Regions from separate parts of the Homo sapiens genome. Here region 1 is linked to region 2. The links come from fine-mapping of genetic effects on gene expression. A gene starts in region 2. The other region holds a variant in brackets. All regions are shown on one strand. Distances are from middle to middle.

Region 1 (5,428 bases), 24 kb before region 2:
CAGTGCTGAGCTAGTCAGTGGCCACTCCCGTGAGGCACTCAGAAATGAGGTGGGAACAAGATCAGATGTGGTGGTTCACGCCTGTAATCCCAGTACTTTGGGAGGCCGAGGCGGGTGGATCACCTGAGGTCAGGAGTTCGAGACCGGCCTGGCCAACATAGTGAAACCTGTCTCTACTAAAAATACAAAAATTAGCTGGGCATGGTGGCATGCACCTGTAATCCCAGCTACTCGGGAGGCTGAGGCAGGAGAATTGCTTGAACCCAGGAGGTGGAGGTTGCAGTGAGCCAAGATCACACCACTGCACTCCAGCCTAGGTGACAGTGCGAGACTCTCTCAAAAAATAAAAAAATAAAAATAAAAGAGGTGGGAACAAGCCCTGAGCCCCAGGCTGAGAGACCTCAGTCCCTGCCCCAGGGTGGCCACCCCGGATATCCTTGCCTTGGCTGCAGAGAGAGACCTGGCCTTGCCAGCAGCGTGGGCTGACCCTGGCCAACTGGCGGTATGAGGCAGACAGTAATAATTGTGCGCAGCATGCTGGGAAGTCAGAAGTATGATTACCCCTGCCCCACGATGGGGGTGGCTTTTGTACAGCTGGTCCTGGGACAGTGGAGTGGGGCTTGTAACTGTGGCTGAGGCCTAAGGCAGGACCCAAGCCAAGTGGCAACATGACTGTCCCCTTGTGCCTGCTGGGCCCAGGTCTGGGGACTGGAAGGAGGCAGACCGAGGTCCAATGGCAAGACCGACAGGGAGGCCAAGTGCAGTGGCTCACACCTACAATCCCAGTGCTTTGGAAGGCTGAGGCAGGAGGATCGCTTGAGGCCAGGAGTTCAAGACCAGCCTGGGTAACACAGTGAGACCCCCGTCTCTACAAAAATAAAAATTAAATTTAAAAACTGTTTTAAAAAAAGACTCACAGGAGATTCCTAAGAGATCTGATCCGTGCCACCTCGGGACTGGGGTTTAGTGGTGCCCAGGGCTGGGACACAGTAGGCAGGTCTCCCCTTATAGGGCCCACTCTGGAAAGGGAGCTTGGGACCTCTGGGCTCCACCTGAATTAAAACCACTGGAGCCAGGCATGGTTGTGGAAACCTATAATTCCAGCTACTCGGGATGCTGAGTTGGGAGGATCGCTTGAGCCCAGGTGTTTAAGGCTGCAGTGAGCTGTGATTGCACCCCTGCACTCCAGCCTGGGTGACACAGCAAGACCTCAACTCTACAGATGTGTGTATGTGTTTGTGTGTGTGTGTGTAAACCACAGGGCCAGGAGAGTAGAGAATGCACTTTCCAGGCAGCTGTCCTAGGGGCCTAGGGGACCCAGAGGGCCCAGACAGAGCGGCCGGCCCCAGGCTCGCTTGCCTCCCCAGCCACAGGGAGGGGGCAGGCAGATAGGTGAGGGAGGAAGTCCCTGGCCCAGAGGCTGAGACTTGGCCTTGACACCAGTGTATCAGGCAAGGTTCCTCTCTCTGTGCCGGGCCCCCAGTGGTCCTCCAGATCTTACTGTGGCTGGGAGCGGAACAGCCAGGCCTGTTCTTGTCCCTGCCCAGAGGCCCCCAGGGAGAGGGGGAGGGGCAGGGCCCTGGCGCTGTACCCTGGGCACCTGCGTGTGTACAGGTGGGTCCTGTACATACGTCCACTTATGTGTGCACAACCCCGCACAGGCCAAGGACAGCGATGATGATGATGATGTCGCTGTCACCGTGGACCGAGACCGCTTCATGGATGAGTTCTTTGAGCAGGTGGGAGCCAGCACACCCCACCCTTCCCGCACACTGGCAGAACTTGGGGGGCCACTCTCGCCTCTGAGCCAGGTTCAGTGCTCTTTCACACCTGCACCTGGCTCAGCAGCTCCGGGGTGCCAACGAATGAACCGTTTTGAGGGTGAATAGATGGAAGCTCAGAGCGGAGCTAAATCTGGGATCACACTCCTCCCCATCTGGGTCTGGAAGGATGCACCCCCACTGCACCCCAGCACCCGGAGCCTGGCCCGTCCTCCCCCTGAGCCCTGACCGCAGCCCTACTCTGGGCCATCTCTGGGCCCCAGAAGGCTTCTCCCCTGATTTCCTTCTCCTGACCACCTGGCCTTGGTCCGCAGGTGGAGGAGATTCGAGGCTTCATTGACAAGATCGCAGAGAACGTGGAGGAGGTGAAGCGGAAGCACAGTGCCATCCTGGCATCCCCCAACCCCGATGAGAGTGAGTGTGTGGGGCGGGGGACGGGTTTCAGGCCCCACAAGCCTCGGGAAGGGGCTGCTGCCAGGGAGGCCTCACGGGACCTCTGCAGCCTTCATGGCTGGTGGGCTTAGGAGTGTCTGGGCGGGCCAGGGTCGGGAGGGTTTCACGAGAAGCCTTGGGAAATGCAGCTGTCCCCGGCTTGGAACTGGGGGGTCAGTACCCAGCATCCCAGGCCGGCCAGACCAGGTCTCCATGAAAGACTTGGGTGATGGGAGAGGCGATCGGCCCCGCCCTTCCCAGGTGAACTGGCCTTTTTTTTCTTTTTTTCTTTTTTTTTTTTTTTTTTTGAGATGGAGTCTTGCTCTGTCGCCAGGCTGGAGTGCAGTGGCACAATCTCAGCTCACTGCCACCTCTGCCTTCCGGGTTCAAGCGATTCCCCTGCCTCAGCCTCCCAAGTAGCTGGGATTACAGGCACGCGCCACCATG[C/A]CCGGCTAATTTTTTGTATTTTAGTAGAGACGGGGTTTCACCATGTTGGCCAAGACAGTCTTGATCTCCTGACCTCGTGATCCACCTGCTTCAGCCTCCCAAAGTGCTGGGATTACAGGCATGAGCCACCGCGCCCAGCCGAACTGGCTTTTTTCCTTTTTTCTTTTCTTTTTTCTTTTTTTTTTTTTCAAGACGGAGTCTTGCTCTGTCACCCAGGCTGCAGTGCAGTGGTGCCATCTCGGCTCACTGCAACCTCCGCCTCCCAGGTTCAAGCAATTCTCCTACGTCAGCCTCCCAAGTAGCTGGGATTACAGGCATGCGCCACCACGCCCGGCTAATTTTTGGTATTTTTAGTAAAGATGGGGTTTCTCCATATTGGTCAGGCTGGTCTCGAACTCCCGACCTCAGGTGATCCGCCCGCCTCGGCCTCCCAAAGTGCTGGGATTACAGGCATGAGCCCCCACGCCCAGCCCCAAGAAGGTATTTTTTTTCATTTCGAACTGGCTTTTTTCTAAGGCAACTGGGCTGGCTGCAGCCCTGGGCTTCTGGGAGCGAGGGAAGGAAGGAGGGAAGGAGGAAGCTGTCTGTGATCAATAGGAAGGCCTCTCGGTCCAGCCCCGCCCCTCCCCTCGCCTCCCAGGGGAGCAGATGGCAGCTCTAAGTCGTCAGCGCTGTGGGAGGGCAAGCTGGCCAAGCAGGCAGAGCTTCCGGAAGGAGCTGGCAGCCCTGGCACCTGGCCATGTGGCACCCCGGGGCGGGCATTCTCAGGGCTCCAGGAAGTCACCCCTCTCCCTCCACACTGGGAGCCTGTGTGTCAGGCTCGCACTCTGTCCCCAGACAGGTCCCCCTGACCCGGTCCTCATGTTCCTGTTGAGATGTTGTTTACTACACTGAGAGATGCCAGGCTGATGGCATAGGTGCCCTTCCCTGGAGGGGGGCTCACCATGAGCCCCAGGGATGCAGCCATCAGGTGTTTGAGGGAGGCAAGCGCTGGCCACCCAGGTGCCCGGGGTCAGATTTTCTTCTCACCTCCAGCACGGCCTCCTGGTCTATGACCCCTCACCCCCAAGCCCACTGGCATCTTCAAGAACCCAGAGTAAATCTTTTCACAGCCCCAAAGTGTGCATGAACCCAGGTCAGTGCCACACCAACTAAGCCAGTGCCCCGCCCTCAGAAGGCAAAATGGGTCAGGTGGGAGCAGGGTGGACTGCCTCAGGAAGGGCAGGAGGGAGAGAGGGACGCCCAGGGCTCACCACGCTGAGCTCCTTGCCTGAGAGATTTGTTGGATGGCAGCATGAGACGGATGTCTGTGCGCCCAGAGGTATCTGGGTCACTGTGTGTCCCTCTGTGGGCTGTTCCTGCTCAGGGTCAGGAGGTGGCTGATTGTGGGGTGGGGACGGAGGGCTCTAAAGAGCAGGGGAGTGGGTCTCTCACTGCTGGCAGGTGGGGCGGGCATGGGGCAGCAGAGCTGTCTGCTCCACACCTTGGGCTCCTGCAGGCCACCTCCTGCACCGTCTCCTGCTGCGGTGTCATGCACAGTCATAGGGACCGGTTCTGAGTCACCACCCGTGAGCTGAGCAGTTGAGACCTGGCGGAGTCCCAGGCTCTCGCTAAGAGGAGGGGGCTCATGTTGGGGGTTCTAGGGCACAGGCGGCACAGAGTTAAGGAGAAGTCTCAAGGAAAGATGGCAATGAGTGGGGGGCTCTCCCGGGCAAGGCAGGCTCTGCCTCCTCTGGGGGCTGCCATCCGGCCTGGGCTATTTTGGGTCTGAGCAAAAGAGGCTGAGACGTCAGAGCAGCTGGTAACCGACTTTTCCTTTGTTCCTACGGATGAGGCGCCCTCCTCCGCGCCTCGGAACCCCCCCTTCCCCGCTCCACCTCACTGCATTCCACTTGGGAGGTGACCCCATCCGGGGCCTTCCTGATAGACCACTCTCAACACCCCTCCCTGTCCCCTCTAGGACAAACCCCAGCCCCAGGGGCAAGCAGAGGGGCAGGTGGGAAGGTGATAGCCAGAGCTCAGTCCCGGCTTCTCTCGGGGCAGAGTCCTGGGGGTGTCCTGAGACTGGGGTGTTGCCAGGAGCACCCCCAAGGGAGGCAGCTGTCTTGTCCCACTTTTCCATCCAGCTTCTCTCAGGCAGGGGGGCAAGCTGGGCACCCCCATGGCCTCTGCCAGCTTTAGGGAGATGGTTCTAGTTGGAACAAGGGCCACAAAACACTATGTCACCACCCTCGTCCAATTTCACCAGGGCCCCAGCTACCTGCCACGGCCAGGGCCAACTGTGCCCACCTCTTTGGACCTGAGGGCCCACATCAGCGCCCACCCAGGCCATCCACCCCTTGCCCTCTTCCGCCCGCCAGGTACTTAGCACCCAGGGAGGCGTAGCTTTGTGGGAACAGCAAGGTCTGCCCCACCCAGAGTGTTTGCGCATATGACTCAGGGAGTGTGGGGTGGTCCCCTGTCAACCCCCTGCCTGGCTGCGTACCCTCCTGAGCCACCAGGTAACACCAGGTGAGCCCACACCGCCCCCCCACCCCTTCAACTCCAGCAAGCATCAAGTCACTGTTCCCGGCGCCAACTCCAGCATCGCCAGCTGCTCCACAATTACTTCTGCCTTAAATTTAGACCCATCTGTTATCTCCAGGGGGTGGGGGCGCCAGCAAAGGAGGAAGGGAGGCTCCTCCGAAGACAGCACAAGAGGGGGTGAAGCTGCAGCTGGTGCAGCCCTGGCCCAGAATTGGGGGAGGGGGGCGGGCAGGCAGAGCCTT
Region 2 (5,000 bases):
GTGGACATGGTAAAGGAGTTCTGGGTGAATACTTCCCCCAGACCAAAAAACAAAAAACAAAAAAAAGCCAAGTTAAAAACAAACAAAAAACGGATCAATCATCCCGAGGTACTCTTTTCTGACCCCTTCTAAGTTGGGATCAACAAATTCAACCATTCGAAAGTGACCCCAAAAATTCCATGTAATTCAGGACCATGTTATTTTGTGGTAACAACTTATCATTGCACCAGCTGCCAAGCAGATGTGTAAAAGCAAATCACTTAGCTAGTAATAAACAACCACTGGGATCTGCAACTCTATTAGGCTGGGCTGCTCTAGCACTTGTTGAAAACATTTTCTCCAAAAATTATTCTCCATAGTTTCTCTCATCTAGAAGGATCAACAATGCACAAAAACCTACAGCAGCACTGTCTGTGAGAAACAGAATGTGAGCCACGCATGGCTTCCCAATAGCCAGTCAAGAAGAAACTTAAAGAAACAGGTAAAAGAAACTGGAGTCATATTTTTTTTTTTTTTTGAGACGGAGTCTTGCTCTGTTGTCGCCCAGGCTGGAGTGCAGTGGCGCGATCTCGGCTCACTGCAAGCTCCGCCTCCCGGGTTAATGCCATTCTCCTGCCTCAGCTTCCCCAGCAGCTGGGACTACAGGCGCCCGCCGCCACGCCCGGCTAATTTTTTTTTTTGCATTTTCAGTAGAGACGGGGTTTCACCATGTTAGCCAGGATTTCTCTATCTCCTGACCTTGTGATCCGCCAGCCTCGGCCTCCCAAAGTGCTGGGATTACAGGCGTGAGCCACCGCGCCCGGCCTCTGGAGTCATATTTTTAACCCCATATATTTAATAACGTATTTCCATTAACTCAATATGTTCAAAATATCACTTCAACATATAATCGACATAAAAAGTCATCAGCAAGGACCGGGCCTGGTGGCTCACGCCTATAATCCCAGTACTTTGGGAGGCCAAGGCGGGTGGATCCCGTGAGCAACTTACCAGATCCCTGGGCAACATAGCAAAACTCCCTCTCCACAAAAAAATTACACAAACTAGTCGGGCGCGAGGAGGCGCGCCTGTAGTTCCAACTACCCGGGAGGCGAGGTTGCAGCCACTGCAGCACTTCGGCCTGGGCGATAGAATGAGAGCCTGTCTCACACGCACAAAAAATTATCAAGCTATTTCAGCCGGTGTGGTGGCGAGTGCCTCTAGTTCCGGCTGCTGGGGAGGATGGCTTGAGGCTGCAGTCGGCAGGGATCATGCCATGGCACTCCAGCCTGGGCAATAGAGAGACCCTGTCCCTAAAAAAAAGAAACAGTATCCAATAGCTATTTATTTATTTATTGAGTCAGGGTCTCACTCTGTCGCCAAGGCTGGAGTGCAGTGGTGCGATCGCAGCTCACTGCAACCTCTGCCTCTCAGGTTCAAGTGATTCTCCTGCCTCAGCCTCCCGTAGGCCCGGCTAATATCTGTATTTTCAGTAGAGACGGGATTTCACCATGCTGGCCAGGTTGGTCTCGGAATTCCTGACCTCAGGTGATCCGTCCACCTCCGCCTCCCACAGGGCTGGGATTACTGGTATGAGCCATAGCGCCCGGCCAGTAACCATTTACTGAAATAGGGCTAGTCTCTCAGTGAGAGAGCACGGAAAAACCACAAAGTATCTTTTTTTTTTTTTTTTTTTTTTTTTTTTTTTTTTTTGAAACAAAGTCTTGCTCTGTCGCCCAGGCTGGAGTGCAGTGCCGTGATGTCGGCTCACTGCAACCTCCCCCTCCCGGGTTCAAGCTATTCTCCTGCCTCAGCCTCCCGAGTAGCTGGGGTTACAGAAACCCGCCATCGCGCCCGGCTAATTTTTTCCATTTTTAGTAGAGCTGGAGTTTCGCCATGTTGGCCAGGCTGGTCTCGAACTCCTGACCTCAGGTGATCCGTCTGCCTCAGCCTCCCAAAGTGTTGCGATTACAGGCGTGAGACACCGCGCCAGCTTCCCCCCGCCCCCATCCCCCCCCCTTTTTTTTTTTTTTAACGACTCGAGGTGCGCTGGCTCACGCCTGCAATCCCAACAGTTCGGGAGACGAAGGCGGGAGGATCGCTTGAGCCCTGGGCTTGGGCCACCTTGGGCAACACAGCGAGACCCCATCGCAACAAAAATTTACAAAAAAAAGCCAGGCGTAGTGGCGCGCGCCTGTGGTCCCAACTACTGGAGAGGCAGAGGGGAGCCACCACACCCGGCTAATTTTTTTATTACTTGCGGAGACGGGGGCTCGCTACGTTGCCCAGGCTGGTCTCGAACCCCTGAGCTCAAGCGATCCTCCCGCCTCAGCCTCCCAAAGTGCTGCGATTGCTGAGATTACACGCGTGAGCCACTCCCACCTGGCTACAACTCAGTAGTTATACAAACTACCCTCTATGAAATTCAGACAATAATACACCAACTGCTGTCTTGGAGATTTATTGGCAACAAGGCGCCACGATAAGCATCCTACGGCCATTACTTCCTTCCCCCCACCAGGACTGACCCCTCGCCCGTACCCACCGCCCAGCGCCTCTTTTACCACATGTTTAGGACAAATTGTCACATTCGACTTTGAAAACCACCCACGGAAAGCAAGCGCGATCACCCCTACCTCAACGCTGAGGTACCGAGGCCCAGAGAGGTCGGCAACTTAAAGTTGATTTACCAGAGACAGAAATCGGCACCCACCCGGGTCCTTCCCTTCCCGCACCCCCAAATTCTACGGCCTTTCCGGGCAACGCCAGCAACAGGGGCAACTTGCCGCTTCCCGACCCCCGGACGCCCCGCAGTATTCAGGCTCCCCTCACTTGCGAACGTATTTCCGGGCTTCTGTCTCGTCATAAAACTGCGAAAAAGAGAAAATGGCATGTAGAGGAATAATTCAGACGCGGTGGCCGCAGAAGTGGGGAGAGGGGTGTCCGCGGGCCCCGGGACTTACCAGCTCTGGGGGTCCGCCATGCTCCGGACGCCGGCCGCGGGACGCCATTCTCACGCCTCAGCAGCACACCTGCGACTGGCGCCTGCCGGCACCCGGTTTTTATGTCATCAGCCCGGCGACCGCTTAGTAATACGCATGTTCCACCCCCACGACCGCCCCGCCCCCCCCTTTACGTGACTGGCCACAGGGCGACCAACCGACTCCTCTCATTGGCCGGTTTCTCTTGCACCGCCTGCCGAATCAATTCAACATGGCAGCCATGCGCTGGCGATGGTGGCAGCGGCTGTTACCTTGGAGGTTGCTGCAGGCCCGTGGCTTTCCACAAAATTCTGCACCCAGCCTGGGCCTAGGAGCGAGGACTTATTCCCAGGGCGACTGCTCGTATTCGCGCACGGCGCTGTATGATCTGCTCGGCGTCCCCTCCACAGCCACGCAGGCCCAAATCAAGGCGGCTTACTACCGTCAGTGCTTTCTCTACCACCCGGACCGCAACTCCGGGAGCGCGGAGGCCGCCGAGCGCTTCACGCGCATCTCCCAGGCCTACGTGGTGCTGGGCAGTGCCACCCTCCGTCGCAAGTATGATCGCGGCCTACTCAGCGACGAGGACCTGCGCGGACCTGGCGTCCGGCCCTCCAGGACGCCCGCACCCGACCCCGGCTCGCCGCGTACCCCGCCGCCCACCTCTCGGACCCACGACGGTTCTCGGGCCTCCCCCGGCGCCAACCGCACGATGTTCAACTTTGACGCCTTCTACCAGGCCCACTACGGGGAACAACTGGAGCGGGAACGGCGCCTGAGGGCCCGGCGGGAGGCCCTTCGCAAACGGCAGGAGTATCGGTCCATGAAAGGCCTCCGCTGGGAGGATACCCGAGACACGGCTGCCATTTTCCTCATCTTTTCAATCTTCATCATCATCGGCTTTTATATTTAATCGGAGAGAGAAGGGAAGGGGAGTGTCCCCAGCCAACCCCCCAGAAACGGCCTTTTTTCCTGCCTCTGAACCCTTGGCCATTGATAGTCTACCTTTGCTGGGATCCGAAGGAACTGTACTCCCCCTGCCCTCCCCGACCCGCCCAGCTTAGCCGATGACCTGCACATCGCTCCACTGTGGTCCAGAAAAGGAGGCCTTTCGATGTCTGAGAAAGAGGCCCCACGCTGTAGAGTCCCGAAAGCCCAGGAGTGAAGGGGGTTCCTGGAGTCTCTAGGGTGCTTCTTCCAGAGTCTGTCTTCTTGCTTCCAGATGTGGTCAACTTCTGGAACACTCGCTGTAGCTTTATTGTTTAGCCCCAAGCAAGATTTATCTCCTCCTGCCCCGCATGTGTATGGTGGGCCTCTGTAACCTTGAAATGTGCAATGTGACCAATTGTTGACTACCAAAAGAAAAGGTCTGGGGTTGTACGAAACTTGTCTTTCTGTGACTTCCCCAAGCCGCAGGTGAGACCTGGTCCAGGGTAAGAATGGGATCGGTGGAGAGCCTGTCGTTCCTCCCGCTAAGGTCAGCCCCCTGGGGCACTCCTCCTTATGTTGATAGCATGTAGGAGTGAGAAAAAGTCATTGAGCATAAGGAATGAGTGTTCCTGTGCCCATATTTAATGTGTGACCTTGGAGAAGTTACTCTGTAGGCATGACAGCAGAGGAGAAAATCATTTGGCATCTTGAGGTCTGTCATGCTTTATTATCCATAGTTTTTGGGGGGTTTTTTGTTTTGTTTTGTTTTTGAGATGGAGTCTTGCGCTCTGTTGCCCAGGCTGGAGTGCAGTGGTGCGATCTTAGCTCACTGCAACCTCCACCTCCCGGGTTCAAGCGATTCTCCTGCCTCAGCCTCCTGTGTAACTGGGATTACAGGCTCCCACCACACCTGGCTAGTGTTTTGTATTTTTAGTAGATACGGGGTTTCACCATGCTGGCCAGACTGAGGTCTCGAACTGCCGACCTCAGGCTGTCTGCCCGTCCAGCCTCCCAAAGTGCTGGGATTGCAGGCATGAGCCACTGCTCCCGGCCCTATTATCCATAGTTCTAATCCACAGGGATTACAGCATAATGCTAGCAGGGCCAGGT

Evidence for each region. PIP is the estimated chance that this variant, and not a neighbour inherited with it, causes the effect.
Region 1: its variant is the best candidate, but not a certain one, in a credible set for the expression of BUD23 in whole blood (TOPMed, PIP 0.88).

What each region holds. Positions count from the first base shown.
Region 1 is chr7:73,705,356-73,710,783 of GRCh38, reverse strand. It overlaps STX1A (syntaxin 1A), which reads left to right. Exons shown (of 10, transcript NM_004603.4): 2 at 1,662-1,739; 3 at 2,096-2,195. Among named protein-coding and RNA genes, the nearest start is that of MIR4284, 3.2 kb to the left of the region's middle. RefSeq lists an enhancer at 2,885-3,637 and a silencer at 3,484-3,693. The variant C/A (reference allele first, on the strand shown) is at 2,661.
Region 2 is chr7:73,681,616-73,686,615 of GRCh38, reverse strand. BUD23 (BUD23 rRNA methyltransferase and ribosome maturation factor) reads right to left here and starts at 3,019. Exons shown (of 12, transcript NM_017528.5): 1 at 2,943-3,019; 2 at 2,812-2,849. The coding sequence starts at 2,990. It overlaps DNAJC30 (DnaJ heat shock protein family (Hsp40) member C30), which reads left to right and starts at 3,163. Exons shown (of 1, transcript NM_032317.3): 1 at 3,163-5,000. The coding sequence starts at 3,193. The coding sequence ends at 3,873. RefSeq lists enhancers at 612-1,461, 1,462-2,311, 3,242-3,411, 3,652-3,741.